Regions from separate parts of the Homo sapiens genome. Here region 2 is linked to region 1. Evidence: fine-mapped expression QTL. Tissue or cell type: whole blood. Region 1 holds a variant in brackets; the other region holds the start of a gene. All regions are shown on one strand. Distances are between the middles of the regions.

Region 1 (8,175 bases):
GGAGACTACATTTCCCAGTGGTCACAGGACCATGTTCTGGCCAGTGGAAGATAAGAAGTGATGTGGGGCAACTTCTAAGAACCTTCCCTGAGACACTGGGGCCTGCTCTTTGGCCCCAGGGCCCCTCACCCCATAACAGCTGCCTGGAACATAGCTGCTGCCATCTTGAATCATGAGGCTGAGGCCATGCCCAGCAGAGCCATGCCAGGGAAGGGGCCTGGCTCCCACTGCCATGGAGCCTATACAGATCTGCCTGCCCACCCTGAAGGTTGAGCTCCATCATAGTTAATCCTAGTATTTTGGGTTTTCTGCCTTTCAGAATCTAATCCTAACACTCGCATCCTCAGAGAATCACCTAGCACGTGAACATTTTAAAGGCTCTGAGAAGTTCTGCAGCATAAAAACCCAGAATCTGCCAAACTATTTTGACTCTGAGCCCTTTTTATGCACAAAACACATGAACATAACACACATAGCTTCATTTTGGAAATGTCATGCTGGGCACTGAAAAGGGACTATCTTGTGGACCTTTCAACACCTGTACAAGAAATACAACCAGAAAACCATTGCCTCCCACAGACTGGGAGCTCCAGGGCCAGGCACGTTATGACCTTCCGTGTTGCCAGTACTTAAGATTCCTGATACGTGAAATATCCTATTAAAGTTGGCCATGTGCACCTGTACATGAATGAATGAATGAATGAATGAATGAATGAACAAACATAGTTTCCTGCTTAACAGATGAAAACGTGCTGGCTCAGAGAGCATGCACAGCCTCTTGGCGGTGAGGGGCTGAGTCGGTAGCAGAGCCAGGATTGGAGGCCCGCTACTAGGTTTTCGGTCCGTGCTGCCAACATGGCACTGGGAGGGCTGAGGGCCTACAGCCGGCTGCTGACATGTAAGCAAGCTGTCAGTGTTGGGAATGGGACCCTACACACTGGCCTAGCTGCTTGTGAGTAGACACCCACGCCATCCCCACCCACACCATCCCCATGACAGGATTTGGGGCCATCCCCCACCCCCAGAGCCACCGAGCTGAGAGAGGGGTCCTTACGTTTGCACACTGGGGACCCTGAAGACCACTCAGCGATGCTCCCCTTCCAGGTGCAGGTGAGGAGCCCAGACCCCACCATCTGGTGGTTGGAGGGGCAGCGGAACATGAGCACGGTCCCCACGGAAGCACCATTGCCACGAAGGACTTGGAAGGTTGCTTGCGGGGGTAGCCGCAGCTTAGCGCACGTGCCTGGGGAGACAGGCAGGTATGAGGCATGGCGGGGGGGGGGGGGTGGGCACGCAGGGCAGGGCTGGGCAGGACCCTGGAGTGAGGAGCTGGCACAGCATTGGGGAGCACAGGGGTGGGGTGCAGCTCCAAAGGCCATTGGATGCTCTAGAGGTCACATGGGGTCATCCAGACCGGGGGACAACGCAGAGCTGGATCCCTCCATGAAGTACACTCTAGATGTTGAGGATTGGAGCATTAAAAAAAGAAATAAGTGTTAGAAGACAATAAAAGCAAACATACCTTCCCTGAGACACTGAGGCATGGCCTTTGATTATGACCTAAACACGGCTCCAAAGGCAGAAATCAGAACAAAAAAAAAAAAAAAAAAAAAAAGAGGGACAGAGAGAGATCAGCAGATTTGACTGCATACAAAGCAGAAAGCAAAAGCTTCTGAGGCTCCCTAATAATGGAAAACAACCAACTCAGGTGAAAAATTCGGGAAAGGATATTTGGAAAGCATAGGTCAAAGGTTGGTTCGGTAGTCTTAATCTATGAAGAGGTCTTACACATCAATGAAAACTGAATATTCAGTTTAAAAAAAACCAACAAGTTCTAATGTGTGAACAAGCAATTCACAAGGATACCAGTGGCCCACAGTCATGAAAAATGCAGACCCACAGGCAATTGAGGAAATGTTGATTCAAGGGAGAGCTCATTTTTCCTGCGTCGGTGAGGTAAAGGCAAAAAGAAAACAATGTGCAAGTTGGCAGGGCCTGGGAAGCCCTGTACCCGGGCTGGGGTACAGATCCAACCTTTCTGCAGAGCATTTGGTAAATGCAATAAGCACCCTATGTTGCATATGAACCTTTAGCCACAGGAAATAAGAATCTGCTGGCCAGGCATGGTGGCTCATGCTTGTAATCCCAGCACTTTGGGAGGCCGAGGCAGGTGGATCATGAGGTCGGGGATTGAGACCATCCTGGCCAACATGGTGAAACCCCATCTCTACTAAAAATACAAAAATTAGCTGGGCATGGTGGCATGTGCCTGTAATTCCAGCTACTCAGGAGGCTGAGGCAGGAGAATCGATTGAACCAGGGAGTCAGAGGTTGCAGTGAGCCAAGATCACTGCACTCCAGCCTGGCAACAGAGTGAGACTGCATCTCAAAAAAAAAAAAAAAAAAAAAAGAATCTGCTGCCAAGATTTCTCTATGGGGAAGCCCACCTCAGAACCATACATAATAGTGAAAGGCTGAAACAACCCACGCCTCCAGCAGGAGGGAATGATTCCCTTACCCAGGGCCATCCAGACATTAAAATACCAGAGAGCACTTACAGTGATGTTCTTTTTTTTTTTTTTTTTTTTTTTTTTTGAGTCAGAGTCTTGCCCTGTCGCCCAGGCTGGAGTGTGCAATGGCGTGATCTCAGCTCACAGCAACCTCCACCTCCTGGGTTCAAGCAATTCTCCTGCCTCACCCTCCCGAGTAGCTGGGATTACAGGCATGTGCGACCACACCTGGCTGATTTTTTGTATTTTTAGTAGAGACGGGGTTTCACCATGTTGGCCATGATGACCTCGTGATCCGGCCGCCTTGGCCTCCCAAAGTGCTGGGATTACAGACGTGAGCCACCACACCCGGCCAGTGATGTTCTTAAATAAGGACACAGAGATGCTCTGGATGCAACAGCAATCAAGAATTTTTATAAAATTATAACGACAACAGCTGGGACTGAGAAGATTACTGTGGCTGGATGCCATTGCACCTGCCTTACATGTGCCATCATCTATCGGCATAGCAGCCTACCCAGGGAGAACCATCATTATCCCCATCGACAGATGAGCAAACTGGGCAGAGGGTCTTACCACACTTTTTGCAGTCACACGGCTCTTATGCTGCAGGGAAGACTCAGAACCAGACAAGGAGGCTCTGGTCTAACTTCACACACGTTCATACACACACAGACACACACACAAAATGCATCTGAGTCGTTGTGCTATGCATATATCAGCAGCTGGTTACTTTTCACAGCAGTGAAGTGTTCCATTGTGCAGATGGGCCTCAGTGTGTGTCCCTGTTCCCTGCATCTGAGTTGTCTCTGGGGTTCAAGGACGTTCAGTGAAACTGCTAAGGACATCCCCAAGCAGGTCTCCTGGTGTCCAAATCCAGGAGGCTCTTCCTCCTGCTTATCTGGTATTTCCTGATTTTTGGGCATTGACAGTGGACCGCTGGTGCATCACAGGTAAAGAACAGGGACAGGACGGGCACGGTGGCTCACGCCTGTAATCCCAGCACTTTGGGAGGCCGAGGCGGGCGGATCACGAGGGCAGGAGATTGAGACCATCCTGGCTAACACGGTGAAACCCCGTCTTTACTAAAAATAGAAAAATAATTAGCCAGGTGTGGTGGCGGGCGCCTGAAGTCCCAGCTACTTGGGAGGCTGAGGCAGGAGAATGGTGTGAACCCAGGAGGCAGAGCTTGCAGTGAGCCGAGATTGCACCACTGCACTCCAGCCTGGGCGACAGAGCGAGACTCCGTCTCAAAAAAAAAAAAAAAAAAAAGAACAGGGACAGCAGGCCGTGCTGATGCATGGTGTGTGCAGAGGCAGAGACTGACCGGAGGCAGCAGTGGTGAAGGGCCACCTGAGCATCTCTGTGCCTGTCTCCCTCGGCACAGGCAGGGACTGACACCCAGAGATGGGGGTGATGGCAGGGACAAAAACTGGGGCATGCAGAGTCTGAGGGACCCCATTATTCCACACTGACCTGCTACGACCTTCCTCTGTCCTCTGTGTGCTACATCTCCAGCCAGGACCATGCCCTGGGTGCCAGGAATGGAAGTCCTACTGCCCACCGAGCCTGAGATGAGACATAGCCAAGCTTCTGAGCTCCCCAAACCTGCTCACCATGTAGCTTCTCCTCTTATAACTTTAATTTAAATCAGCAGTCCCTCCATCCTTCAGTTGCTTGGGCCCTAAACCTTGAAACCTACTTTCTCAATCCACAACCAATTGGCCAGCAAACTCTGTGGACTCTAATTTTAAAATGTTTACCAAAGACATCTGCGGTAGGCTGCATACCATCCCCCAGATTTATTCACATC[T/C]GCCCAGGAGCAGTCACGTGGGCTGGCTGTGTGCCCAGGCAAGGTCTTTATCTGCGAGACATATCACTCCATTTCTTACCCCACATCTCAATTCACAAGCCCATCTGGGGGGAAACTGAGGCTCAGAGAGGTCACACCACCCCTTGCCCCAGCCATGTGTGCCACGGCTATTAATGGGCATCAGCAGAGCTGGGCTTCAGGCCAGGCTCCGAAGTCTGGTCTGGGATCTGGCAAAAGTGGAGGCTACCAGAGGCTCTGTGCCATGGTAGTGACAGTGAAGGATGGCATTTGGCTGCAGCTGGCCAGGTCACATTGACCCACTCCCCAGCAGCACCCAGTGGTCCCCCTGCCCCTGGCCTCTGCATGACTGAGGACCCCAGGGCCTTAACAAGCTGAGATGCTGAGGGCGAGAGTGCAGAGGCAGGGGTGGCCCTCAGGAGGGGTTGAGGCAGACATGCCCCACCGCTTTGGGAGGGTCAGGCTACACTGCTTCTGCCTTGAGGATACTTGCTAGCAAGGGAAGAGGGGTGGGAGGGGCTTATGGTTTGTGTACTTTTCTGGGAGGGATGGGGGAGGGACTGATCTAACACAGACAACACTGGGGGCCTAATGGGTGCTGTACTGCATTATAGCCCTATGAGGAGGGTGGTCTACCCCTACCTTACAGATGGGGAAACTGAGGCACAGCAAAGCTCAATGGCATGCCCAAGGTCACTCAGTGGGAAGGTGGTAGGGATGGAACTGAGACCCAGCACACTGTTTCGGGAGCCCCACCTGATGGCCAAGCCCAGTGGGTGGAATCTGCCCCATCTCACCTCATCCTGGGCAGCTGCAACTCTAGTTCCCACCCCTGGCTGCGGTTGCCTCTAGTATCCCTTCTCCCCATCCCAGAGTTGCAGCTGGAAATGTGATCACCACTGAAAACTACATTTCCCAACCTGCCCTCCAGGGAGCAGTCACGTGACTGAACCTGGCCAATGAGGTGTGAGCATAGATGCTGTGTCACTTCTGCATTGGGGAGTGTGATGGTTAATATTGAGTGTCAACTTGATTGAATTGAAGGACGCAATGTATCGTCACTGGGTGTGTCTGTGAGGGTGTTGCCAAAGGAGATTAACATTTGCGTCGGTGGACTGGGAGAAGCAGACCCACCCTTAATCTGGTGGGCACCATCTAATCAGCTGCCAGTGAGGCTAGAATAAAAGCAGGCAGAGGAACGTGGAAGGACTAGATTGGCTGAATCTTCTGACCTTCATCTTTCTCCCATGCTGGATGCTTCCTGCCTTTGAACATCAGACTCCAAGTTCTTCAGCTTTTGGATTCTTGGACTTACACCAGTGGCTTGCCAACGGCTGTCGGGCCTTCTGCCACAGACTGAAGGCTGCACTGTCTTCCCTACTTTTGAGGTTTTAGGACTCAGACTGGCTTCCTTGCTCCTTAGCTTGCAGGCAGCCTATTGTGGGACTTCACCTTGTTATCGTGTGAGTCAATACTCCTTAATAAACTCCCCTTTATATATACATCTATGCTATTAGTCCAGTCCCTCTAGAGAACCCTGACTAATACAGGGAGCAAAGATGGTAGACATGTGAAAGGACAGACCAACCTCTCGGATCCTAAGAAGAGACAGCAATAAACTCCAGCTGGAGTTAGGCCACTGTTTTCTTGTGGATTTGTTAAGTGGACTGGCTCAAATCTGATACAAAGCTTCAGCAACACGTCTCAGCCCAGTGCCCTATTTAGCGCTTGGGATTCTGGCTGGTCCACTTGGGGCCCCAAGGTGACAATAACAAAAGTAGGAATATCAGCAACAATAATAATAGAAGGAAGAATAATGCCCAGGCTCTACTCTGTGCTGAGCGCTTCAGCAGCTGTTGGGTGACAGTACAGAAACGAACACACGGGTTCCAGCCTGTGGGGCTCCTAGTCCACCTCCACCACACACATTTGGGGGCCCAGGCAAGGGAGCCTGCCCCGGCCTCAAAGTCAGCACAGCTGTTGTGCCCACCTTGGACTGGGGTGCTGAGGAAATGAGGTGTAATGCCAAGGCATCTGGAAGGTGGTTGTGCCTGGTACACATGAGGGCAGGAGCCATGATGTCCTTGGAAGAACTGTCTCCCCCATTCTGCAGCCCCAGAAACCATGGCTCAGGGACACTGAGGTCACACAGCCAGTTTGTGGTTCCGCCAGGGTCAACCGCAGGCACCTGGCTCTTTATCCCCGGGCTGCCCCCATCCTTTCTGCCCCTTCAGTATCTGGGGAAGGCCAGCCTCTGGCCTGGGCAGGGCCATTCTGACTGCTCCCTGTCTATGGATCCTCAGCATTTGCACAGCCACTAACAATAACAATGCATGTATGGATAGAATATTCTGTTCAAGAGCACCCCACATTCTTTATCTGTATTATTACAGATAAGGCTCAGAGAGGTGGATTCACCTGCCCAAATGCCCACTGATAGCAGGGAGGGAGCCACCACTAGATGCGGTGTCTAAGATTCTTATATTTGTAACATATATGTAATAGGAGATTTGTATCTTCTCTACATAAACAGCACTTATATATTAATAAGCCAATGACAAAAATCACAGCAAAATGTGTAAGTTAGAAAAGAAAAACAAATGGCTCGGCCAGGCATGGTGGCTCATGCCTGTAATCCCAGCACTTTGGGAGGCCGAGGCAGGTGGATCACTTGAGGTCAGGAGTTCAAGACCAGCCTGGCCAACATGGTGAAACCCTATCTGTACTAAAATCAAAAATTAACCGGGTGTGGGTGGCACATGTCTGTAATCCCAGCTACTTGGGAGGCTGAGGCAGGAGAATCGCCTGATCCCAGGAAGCAGAGGTTGCAGTGAGCCAAAATCGTACCACTGCACTCCAGCCTGGGCAACAAAGTGAGACTCCATCTCAAAAAAAAAGAAAAAAAAAAGGAAGAAGTAAAACAATCTCCATTAGATGACATGATTTCGTATATATGTAGAAAAGCCTCAGAAATCCACTAAAAGCTATTATAAATAGAAATTAGTTCAGCAAGGTTGTAGAATACCAGGTCAACATACAGAAGTCAATGTATTTCTGTACAGTAGCAGTGAGCAAATTGAAAATTAAGAAAAACATTTTATACAACAGCATCAAAAAGAATAAATTAGTTATAAATTTAATAACAGAAGTGCAAAACACATACTCTGAAAACTACAAAACGTTGTTGAAAGAAATTAAAGACCTAAATAAATGGGAAAACATCCTATGCTCATGGATCAGAAGACTTAATATTGTTACGATGGCAACATATTATGGTAGTCCGTCCTTATCCTTGTTTTCACTTTCCATGGTTTCAGTTACCGGTGGTTCCACAATCAGAAAATAGTACCTCACAACAGTTGTGTTTTGGGCCATTATTAAGTGAAATGAGAGTTGCCTGAACACAAGCACTGCAGTATCAGGGGGTCTGATAACCCAGAGGGCTACTAAGTGACTGACAGCAATCCCAGGCGGGGTGGAGCGGGATGGGTGAGATTTCATCACAACACTCAGAGTGGCTCACAGTGTAAAACTTACAAATTATCTCTGGAATTTCCCATTCCATCACAAGGCCTATGTTTTTCATCTCACTTCATCTCATCATGTAGGCATTTTATCATCTCACATCATCGCAAGAAGGGTGAGTACCGTCTATTAAGATATTTAGAGAGAGAGAGACCACATTCACATTACTCTTATTATAATATATTGTTATAATTGGTATAACTTATTACTGGTTATCATTAATCTTTCACTCTGTTCAATTTATAAATTAAACTTATCATAGGTACATGTGTTTAGGGAAAAAACAACATATATAGTATCTGAAGTTTC
Region 2 (8,175 bases), 22 kb before region 1:
CACAGCCATGTTGAGGACCACCTCTTGATATTCAGACGTTCTGCCTCTCTAATTAACATGGAAATTCACTGTAATCAGCTACAGCAGTCTACTCCCTGCCAGTCCAAAAGCACGCCCAAGGCTGTCCTCTCCAGCATTGCCCACTTGGCTGAGCACCCAGTAGGTGCTCACTAAAGAGTTCTGCAGGCCGGACGCGGTGGCTCACGCCTATAATCCCAGCACTTTGGGAGGCCGAGGCAGATGGATCATGAGGTCAGGAGTTCAAGACCAGCCTGGGCAACATGGTGAAACCCCATCTCTACTAAAAATACAAAAAAAATTAGCTGGTCATGCTGGCACACGCCTGTATTCCCAGCTACTCAGAAGGCTGAGCCAGCTACTCAGGAGGCTAAGGCAGAAGAATTCCTTGAACCCAGGAGGCAGAGGTTGCAGTGAGCCAAGATTGCACCACTGCACTCCAGCTTGGGTGACAGAATGAGACTCTGTCTCAAAAAAAAAAAAAAAAAAAGAGTTCTGCAATGTATGGTCCAAGACCCAGGGGCAAGGGCTGTAGGTGGACCGTGGCCAGCATCCTGTAGTGGCTTCCTCCTGCCCTGCAAGCCGCTAACCAGGCAGAGCCTCCGCTGCTGCAGAGCCATGAGTCACCATGAGCCGTGAGTCAGCTGGCACAGGCCGCACGGTCCGGAGGCTGAAGCCAGGCTCTGCGGCTTGGGGGTCCTGTGCTTCCTGTGGTTGCGAGTTGTGCACACAAACAGGCAGCACTTGGAAGCCAGAAAAGGCACAAGAAGGGAAACCATCTCAGTGCCAGCTCCCGATAAACAAGTCCCTGAACTGTTTTTACAGGACAAAGGAAGATGGCTCGCTCTGGCACAGACCTGGCAAGCCTTCACCACGCCCTACATCCCCTTCCTTCTTGCCAGGCTGGCACCAGGACTATGGACCCCCATTCAAACACCCCAATATGAACCTTCTTATCAGCCCAGACTGATGCCCTCAGCCTGGCATTCAAGGCCCCGTGGGAGCTGGCCCCACCCACTCTCACCGGGCCCTCTAGGCCCACAAGACATCTCAGCCCAGGCTGAGAATACCTGTTCCTTGGTTTCCACCTGGTTAATTCATGTTCACCTTGCTGTTCTACGTGCAAAAGGCCTTCCTGAGTTCCTGTCATCCCCAACCAACTGGAGTCCAGACACTTGGGCATCAACCTCCTCTCCCGAATTTCTTCCAGGAAACCCCTTCTCTCAGTGCTCAGCCCAACTAAAACTGCTCACTCCCCGGCACAGCCCAGGGGGTAACTTGTCAAGCACCTGCCCCACGCAGACACCTCCTCAGCGTTCTGCAGGCACTGGCTCACATGCGCTGCTCACAGCGAGGGCTGGCGCAAGGCAGGACCCCAGTTGGTGCATGGAGGCAGTGAGCCTGGGACTATGGGTCTGCAGCCTCGCAGGGCTGTCCATATGACCCTCCCAGAGCTGTGCTCCATGGGCCTTGGTTCCCCATCCCAAAAACTAAGGGTTGTGAGGGAATGTCTCCAGGCCCAGTGAGTAGACATAGCAGGTAGGAAGCATACACTGGACAAGGTGAGGCCTATAGTCAGAGCCTTCAGGGACCCCTGCCTGATGTGGTTTCCCAGCTCCAGGGTCCCCTTATGCAAGGAAGCTTCCCTGACAGGCAGAAAGGGACAAAGTCCCTTTGTGCAGGAAGGCTCCTTAATGGACAGCAAGGCCTCAGGCTCTGCCAACACCCAGTCCCTGGGACAGGGCTCCCTGGAGACCAACACAGCTCTGAGTTGTGTCCCACGCATTCTGATGAACTCACTAAGGGAATTACGGAATCCCAGCCTGGGCAGGGCACAATTTAAGACTTTGTTTCCCCATCTGTACACAGACGAGATATTCCAGGTGTCCCCATCTGATCATTTTCAAACAGGAATCACCCAACACAGGGTCCAATGCACAGTAAGTGCTCAGAAATGAGAGCCACAAATAAGAAGAGTTAGAAGGGAGGACAAAGGGGAGCAGGTGGCAGCTGGGGTCTCTTGTGGCCTAGGCTGGAAGTCTCTTCTGGCCTGGTGTCCTGGAAGTCATCAGTTTCCAGCCCATGAGATCCTATTTGTGGGCAGGACCTAGGCTGAGACTCAAGAGAGCGAGCACCGAGAGAGGACTAGGGACTTCTGGGGCTACCCTGAGCCCCTGAGCCAATTCTGCTCCATGAAACAGAACAGTAAGAATGAAGTGTAGCTTCTGGGAACCCCCATACTCCCTGGCCGGGCTGCCATGGGGTCCCTTACCAGCCCATCACCCTCATGGGGCTTCTCCAACAGGGGAAGGTCCACAGGGCAGAGTCACCCTGTTTGGGATCAGGAGGATGGTGGGCAGGTCCCCAGACCAGAGAGGCCCTGGGGAGGAAGGCTGGGCTGGGGCCACTAGCGTGGAGCACAACAACCTTGGGGGGTCCAGTCGCTGTCCCCGATTCTCTTAGAACTAAACAGGGGCAAGAGCGTCGTGGACCACCGAAGGAGTCTGGGAGACTCCAAGAGTCCCACAGGAATCACATGCCGCCGAGGAACGCATCGCCTGTCCCGCGACCTCGCTGGGGTGGTTGTAAGGATGGAGCGTTGTTTCCGTGGCCAGAATCACAGCAGGACCGCTGTGAATTCTCTCCGGTGTCATTTCTACCACCTCCTACTCTTTCAGACCAAATTCCCCACCACGGGACACACACACATTGGCAGTGGCTGAGCCCAGACCGCGGCTGTGCAGCCCCACCCTGGAGCTGCCTTGTAGCCCCCGCCCTCTTCGGGCCCCGCACCTGGCCACCACCCATCATGCCCGGCACCGCCTCGGCTGGCACGGCCCCGCCGGGTAGAAGCCCCGGGACACCCACCACTTCGCGGGGGTGCACTCGCGCACCACCGACAGCTGACGGGCCAAGGTCACTCGGCCCCCGCTGCCCAGGCGCGGCCTGCAGGCGACTCGCAAGGCAGCCGGACCCCCGGGCCGGGCCACCCATCCAGGGCGCCCGCATCCCTGCCGCCCAGCCGACCCCGTGCCCACCTGTCATGGCGACGGACACAGCGCCGCCCGCAGTCCCCAGCGGTCTGCCCCGCCGCGCGTCCGCCCCTCGGTCAGCCGCCCGGTCCACCAGCTCCAGCGAACGCCGCCCGCGGGCCGTGCTCGCCCGCCCCTTTTGGCTAGGCCAGCCCCCCGGCTTTGGCTGTGTAGCCTCGGGGACTCTAAACCCCGCCCTTTGACGAGCCCCGCCCCCTACCGTTAGGCCCCGCCCCTTCCGCGCCCGCTACGGCTCCCCCAGGGCTCTAAACTCCGCCCCTCTCACTCGAGTCCCGCCCCCTTGCCGTCCTGGGATAGGCCGCTGCGAGGATCCTGGAGCCTTGCCCCTCACTCGAGCCCCGCCCCCTCCGGCGTCGGCTTCCGCCTCTCCCGGAGTTCTGAGCCCCGCCCTGCACCTGAACCCCGCCCCCTCCGACGACGGCTTCCGAGCCTCAAGGAACCCCCCACCGGGCCCCGCCCCTTACTCGAGCCCCGCCCCCCTCCGTCGTCGGCCTCCGCGCCTCCAGGGGCCCTGAGCCCCGCCCCTTCCTGCTCTGCCATGCGACTGCGGGCGTGGGCGGGCGACTGCGGGCGTGGGCGGGCGCCACCGGACTCCCGCCCCTCCCAGCGTCAGTTAAGACGCCGCGAGGGGCCCAGAGTCCCTCCCCTCGCTGGGCCCCGGTCCCGCCGGCGTCTATAACGCCGTCGCAGCGGCCTTTAACCCCGCCTCTCACTCGAGCCCTGCCCGCGTCCAAGTCCCGCCCTCAAGGCGGCCTCAGCTACGACCGCCGCGCGCCTCCCTGGAGGCGCCCGCTCCTGCCCGGAGCCCTGCCCGTCTTGGGCCCGCCCTTCCGGGCCCTGCCGCGTTGAGTGGCGGAGTCGGGATCCAGGTGGCCCGCCGGCCGGCTCAGTCCACCTCCCCGCTCCCGGCCTCGCGCCCCACCCCTTGGATGAGAAAACTGAAACTGAGAGGGGACGTGACTGATCCAACGTCATACAGAAAGTCAGGCCCTGGGGAGTACAGGGCCAGGCCTGGGGCAAAAGGCCGGTGGGCGTCCAGTACGCCACAGGGACCAGCCAAAGGAGGCAGTGCCCAGTGATGCTTTCCCAAATCCAGGGGAGAAGGACTCAACGGTGTGACCTCGCTCGGCGGGGTGGGGGGGGGACACCTTCTTGGGGGACCCCAGTCCCCCACCTTCAAAAGAAGACACTAGCTTGACAGTGTGACCCGAACTAGAGAGGTCACTTAACCTGCCTGAGCCTCAGTTTCCTGGACTGTAAAATGAGTGACCTTGGGCCAACTCCACTTCCCTCCCGCTTTCCTTCCTGCTTTCCCTCTCGTAGGCCTGGCATTTCCAGCTCCGGAGCCCGCCACAAGAAGCTCCTAGCCCCACATGATGTGAATGCACTGGGCCCCAGCCAGGAAGTGGAGACCCGTGAAGGAAGGAATAGCAGCACTCTCCCAGCCAGCAGCAGCAGTTTCCCTTCCTCTTTCCTTCCCTGCCTGTGTGGGCCGTTCCCCCATAGCAGCTCTAATTTGAGATGCCAGAGCCTGACCCGGAATGGGGGCCCAACTCAGTGTCCCCTTCTCGGACAGCACAGTGGTCCCTGCAGTCCATGCGCCATCTGTCTCTTTGCCTCAGTTCTCCCCTGTGCCATGACCTCCCATCAGGGCCGGCATAGGGGGCATCAGGAGAATGGGTGCAGTTGTCACCTGGAAACCTCAAAATTCTTGGGGCCCAGTCATGGTCACTATACAGCAGCCACCCCTGTCCCCAAACACTGAAGGTGAGCCCCGTCCATGCTCCCCAGGAGGCCAGGCTGCCATCAGACCCAGCCTGCCCCAGGCCCATGTACAGGGCCGTCCCAGGGCAGGAGGGTAGTGGACCAGCCTGTGGGTCCCTGCAGGCCTCTCATCTGCTTGTGTGCCTGGGTGAGTCCAGGCTGGCTCTGGCCTCCAGGTGCTCCCCTGGAGGACCCAGAGGGGGCTTCCCCAGAGGGCCTCTTTTGCCCCAGTGGGATGCAGCCTGACCCCAATTCTTCTGCATCCATCACACTGTTATGACGTGTAGTACTTACTTCTCTGGGTTTATTTTGCACACACTCCTGCCCCTGAGTGATGTCAGAGCCATAAGGGTGGCGACGGAGTGGAAGGGGGACACAGTGGGGACTGCAGGGGCTCCAGGCACTGCCCACCTTCAGGGAACCTTGACCCCAGCCCCTTTTGGGAAAGGTAGCATCCCACCTTCACATCCACTTCTGCGCCCTCAGGACTGCCCCTGGCCATGTGATGAACAGGGAAACTGAGGTTTGGAGCATGAAGCCCCTTGCCCAAAATCTAGCAGCCAGATGTGGCCTCCCAAGTACAGGTCGCTGTTCCTCAGCCACCTGAGGGTTTGAAAAGGATTTACTTAAAGGAACCCAAGCCTGCATGCAGGGACTGAAAGCCCTGTGCCCTCTGGGATGTGCCCTCCAACCCTATGAGATGGAAGGCCGCGGCAGAAAGCAGGACAGCTGCTGGTGCAGCCAGGGGTGTACAGCCTGGATGCCCACCACGGGGGCTGCAAGCAGGCACGGGCACCCCATGGTCAAATGGCAGATCCTGGGCATTCCCCCTCCCCCAGGCATAGCACACGCATCCTCCCTCCGGGCTAGCTCTTGCCAGCTGTGGCTGCCTGGACCCCAAATGGAAAGTGAGTTCTTGGGAAGGTGGAGGGGCCCCTTAGAAGGAGTGAAGTGAGGTGTGACAGGAAGCCCCGCCCTTGGACACTGTCAAAGAAAAACCAGAGCTGGACTGTGGTTACAGATGTAGAAACAGATTTTTATTCGGGACTCTTGTGATAGGGGAAGAGAGACATCAGCAGAGAACTGGGCTCAATTCCAAATACAGCAAGGACACTTGGGACAGGAGGGGACTTTGAGGATGGAAAATTAGGAAGAGGAAACATCAGGGTGAAGGGGATTCCGGCTGACAGAATTCTTGCAAAGACAGCCTGGGCTTACGAGACCTCACCCAGGGGATGGTGGGGGTAAGCACCCTGATTGGGTATCAAGGGTGATCAAGTATCCAGGGTGGGGAGTTCTTGCCAAACTCATTAGGAGGATTCTTTGTTGAAACTGGATTTTACAAGGAAGTTCACAGATGGGCCAAGGAGAAAGTTCAGGACCCTGGCTAAAGTTTGTCAAGCACAGAATCTTTGTCAACGTCACAGAAGCCAGAGCCCTGACACACACACACCCCCACTCCTCTGAACGGCCTCCACCTTACTATTTGCTTCTTTCAGATTTTCTTGCCATCACATGCTTGATCTCATTAGAAAGCAGGCACAATTTTAAAATTATACAGGCAAAGCTAATTTCCACAGGGGTTCTTTGCACTGGGTTGGGTGGGGGCACTCCCCCTGGTTTTCATAGGGCCAGCCATTCCTCAGGCCTCTGCTCACCTGCACCCTGACCCTGTGGGCTCTGCCTTCCAAGCCCAGCCCTGCTCCCACCTCAGTGACCGCCATCCCTGTTATGTCTTGCCTGGAAGGTGGCAGCCGCCTTCTCACATCTCACTGGTTCCCTGCCCCATCCTTGTCCCCATGGCCCAGTACCCACATAGTGGCCACAGGGGTCATAACACTGAGTCTGACCATCCTCCTCCCTCACCCGGGCTCACAGCCTTCCAGTTCCTCCAGCAGCCACCTCTGCCATTTACAAATCTTCATGTGTGCTGTGACCACCCAGAATGCTCTTCCCAGCTCTGTGTCTAGCATCCTCACCCCCACTTGGAGTCTGGCCCTTCTGGACCACGTCACTCGCCACTGCACCCCACCCCCCATCTCTGTTCTTCAGAGCACTAGTCTTGCCCTATGATGGCTTCTCCACTGACCATCATCTGTGCTGCAGTGTTCACTCCACAAAGGCTGGCATGCAGGAGGCACTTAATGAATGCACACAGATAGTTCTGTTGATGATTAGGGTTAAGGATAGGAGGGCAAGGACAGATGCTATAAAGATGACAGGGTGGCCTCCCCGAGAGGCTGATGCTGAAGAACGGGTGTTCCTAGGCCAGGGCAGGAGGCATGAGGCCCCCATGGGCTGTGGGAGACCTTCATGGCTGAAGCTGACTGTAACCAGGCCAAGAGGTGATGGTAGGTGATGAAGGGCCTGAACACCAAGGAGCAAGGACATTCTCCTCCCACATTCTCACATGGCCAGGGAGCATCATTTATCCATTCAGTCACTCATTAATTCATTCAACAAATATCTCCTAAACATAGGCCCAACCCAGAGCTGGATCACAAGGAAGACTGGAAGCTCCACTCCCCCATGGAGCTTCCCTGTTACCAGAGGACACAAACACACATCTGCATGTTGATCTGGTAAGAGCTAGGGAGATGAGTCAGGCAAAGAAAGAGGCGGAGGATGCCTATGAGGTTGCCAGCCTCCAAGGTGGCCCCAGCAATCCTCACATTCCAGGTCATGCCCTTGTGTAGTCTCCTCCCACAGTCAATCAGGCTGGTCTGTGTGGCCAGTGAAGTGTGGCAGGGGTGACAGTGTGACTTCTGAGGCTGGGTCACAGAGGCATCATGGCTTCAGCCTTTGCATCTTCAGATAGCTTGTTCTGGGGCGAATCAGCTACTATATTGTAAGGATGCTCAACCTGCCTTGCAGAGAGCCCTGTGTGGAGAGGAACTAGGCCCCCAGCCAACAACCAGCAGTGACTCACTGTGAGAGAGTGAATCATCTTGGAAGTGGATCCTAAGCCCCAATAGAGACTTCAGATGAAACTGCAACCCTGGCTGACATCTGACTGCAGTGGCATAAGAAACCCTTATGTCAGAATCACCCTGCAAAGCCCAAATTCTTGACCCACCAAGTGAAAGAGAATAAATGACGATTGTTGTGTTTGAACTCCCATGTTTTTGGGTAATCAGTTCCACGGCAATAAATAACTAATGTACTAGACATCTGAGCAGAGGCCTTGCTGCACTGCGGAAGCTAGATGATAGCTGGGGAAGTGTTCCAGATGAAACAGGGCAGGCAGGAGCCCCGAGGCAGAAATGAACTTGCTGTGCCTGAGAGACAACCATTGTGATATTGTGGCTGGAGTGGAGTAAGGGGAACAGTAACAGGGAGT

The links. PIP is the estimated chance that this variant, and not a neighbour inherited with it, causes the effect.
Region 2: it holds the start of CARD19, and the variant in region 1 is fine-mapped to the expression of CARD19 in whole blood (TOPMed, PIP 0.91).

What each region holds. Positions count from the first base shown.
Region 1 is chr9:93,068,852-93,077,026 of GRCh38, reverse strand. It overlaps SUSD3 (sushi domain containing 3), which reads right to left. Exons shown (of 5, transcript NM_145006.4): 2 at 1,055-1,243. Among named protein-coding and RNA genes, the nearest start is that of SUSD3, 14 kb to the right of the region's middle. RefSeq lists an enhancer at 5,166-5,460. The variant T/C (reference allele first, on the strand shown) is at 4,324.
Region 2 is chr9:93,091,234-93,099,408 of GRCh38, reverse strand. CARD19 (caspase recruitment domain family member 19) reads right to left here and starts at 3,192. Exons shown (of 6, transcript NM_032310.5): 1 at 3,057-3,192. The coding sequence starts at 3,063. LOC101927993 (a long non-coding RNA gene) reads left to right here and starts at 3,899. Exons shown (of 4, transcript NR_188444.1): 1 at 3,899-4,041; 2 at 4,395-4,838; 3 at 7,316-7,417; 4 at 7,710-7,949. RefSeq lists enhancers at 892-961, 4,155-4,204 and silencers at 2,835-2,944, 2,965-3,714, 3,735-4,044.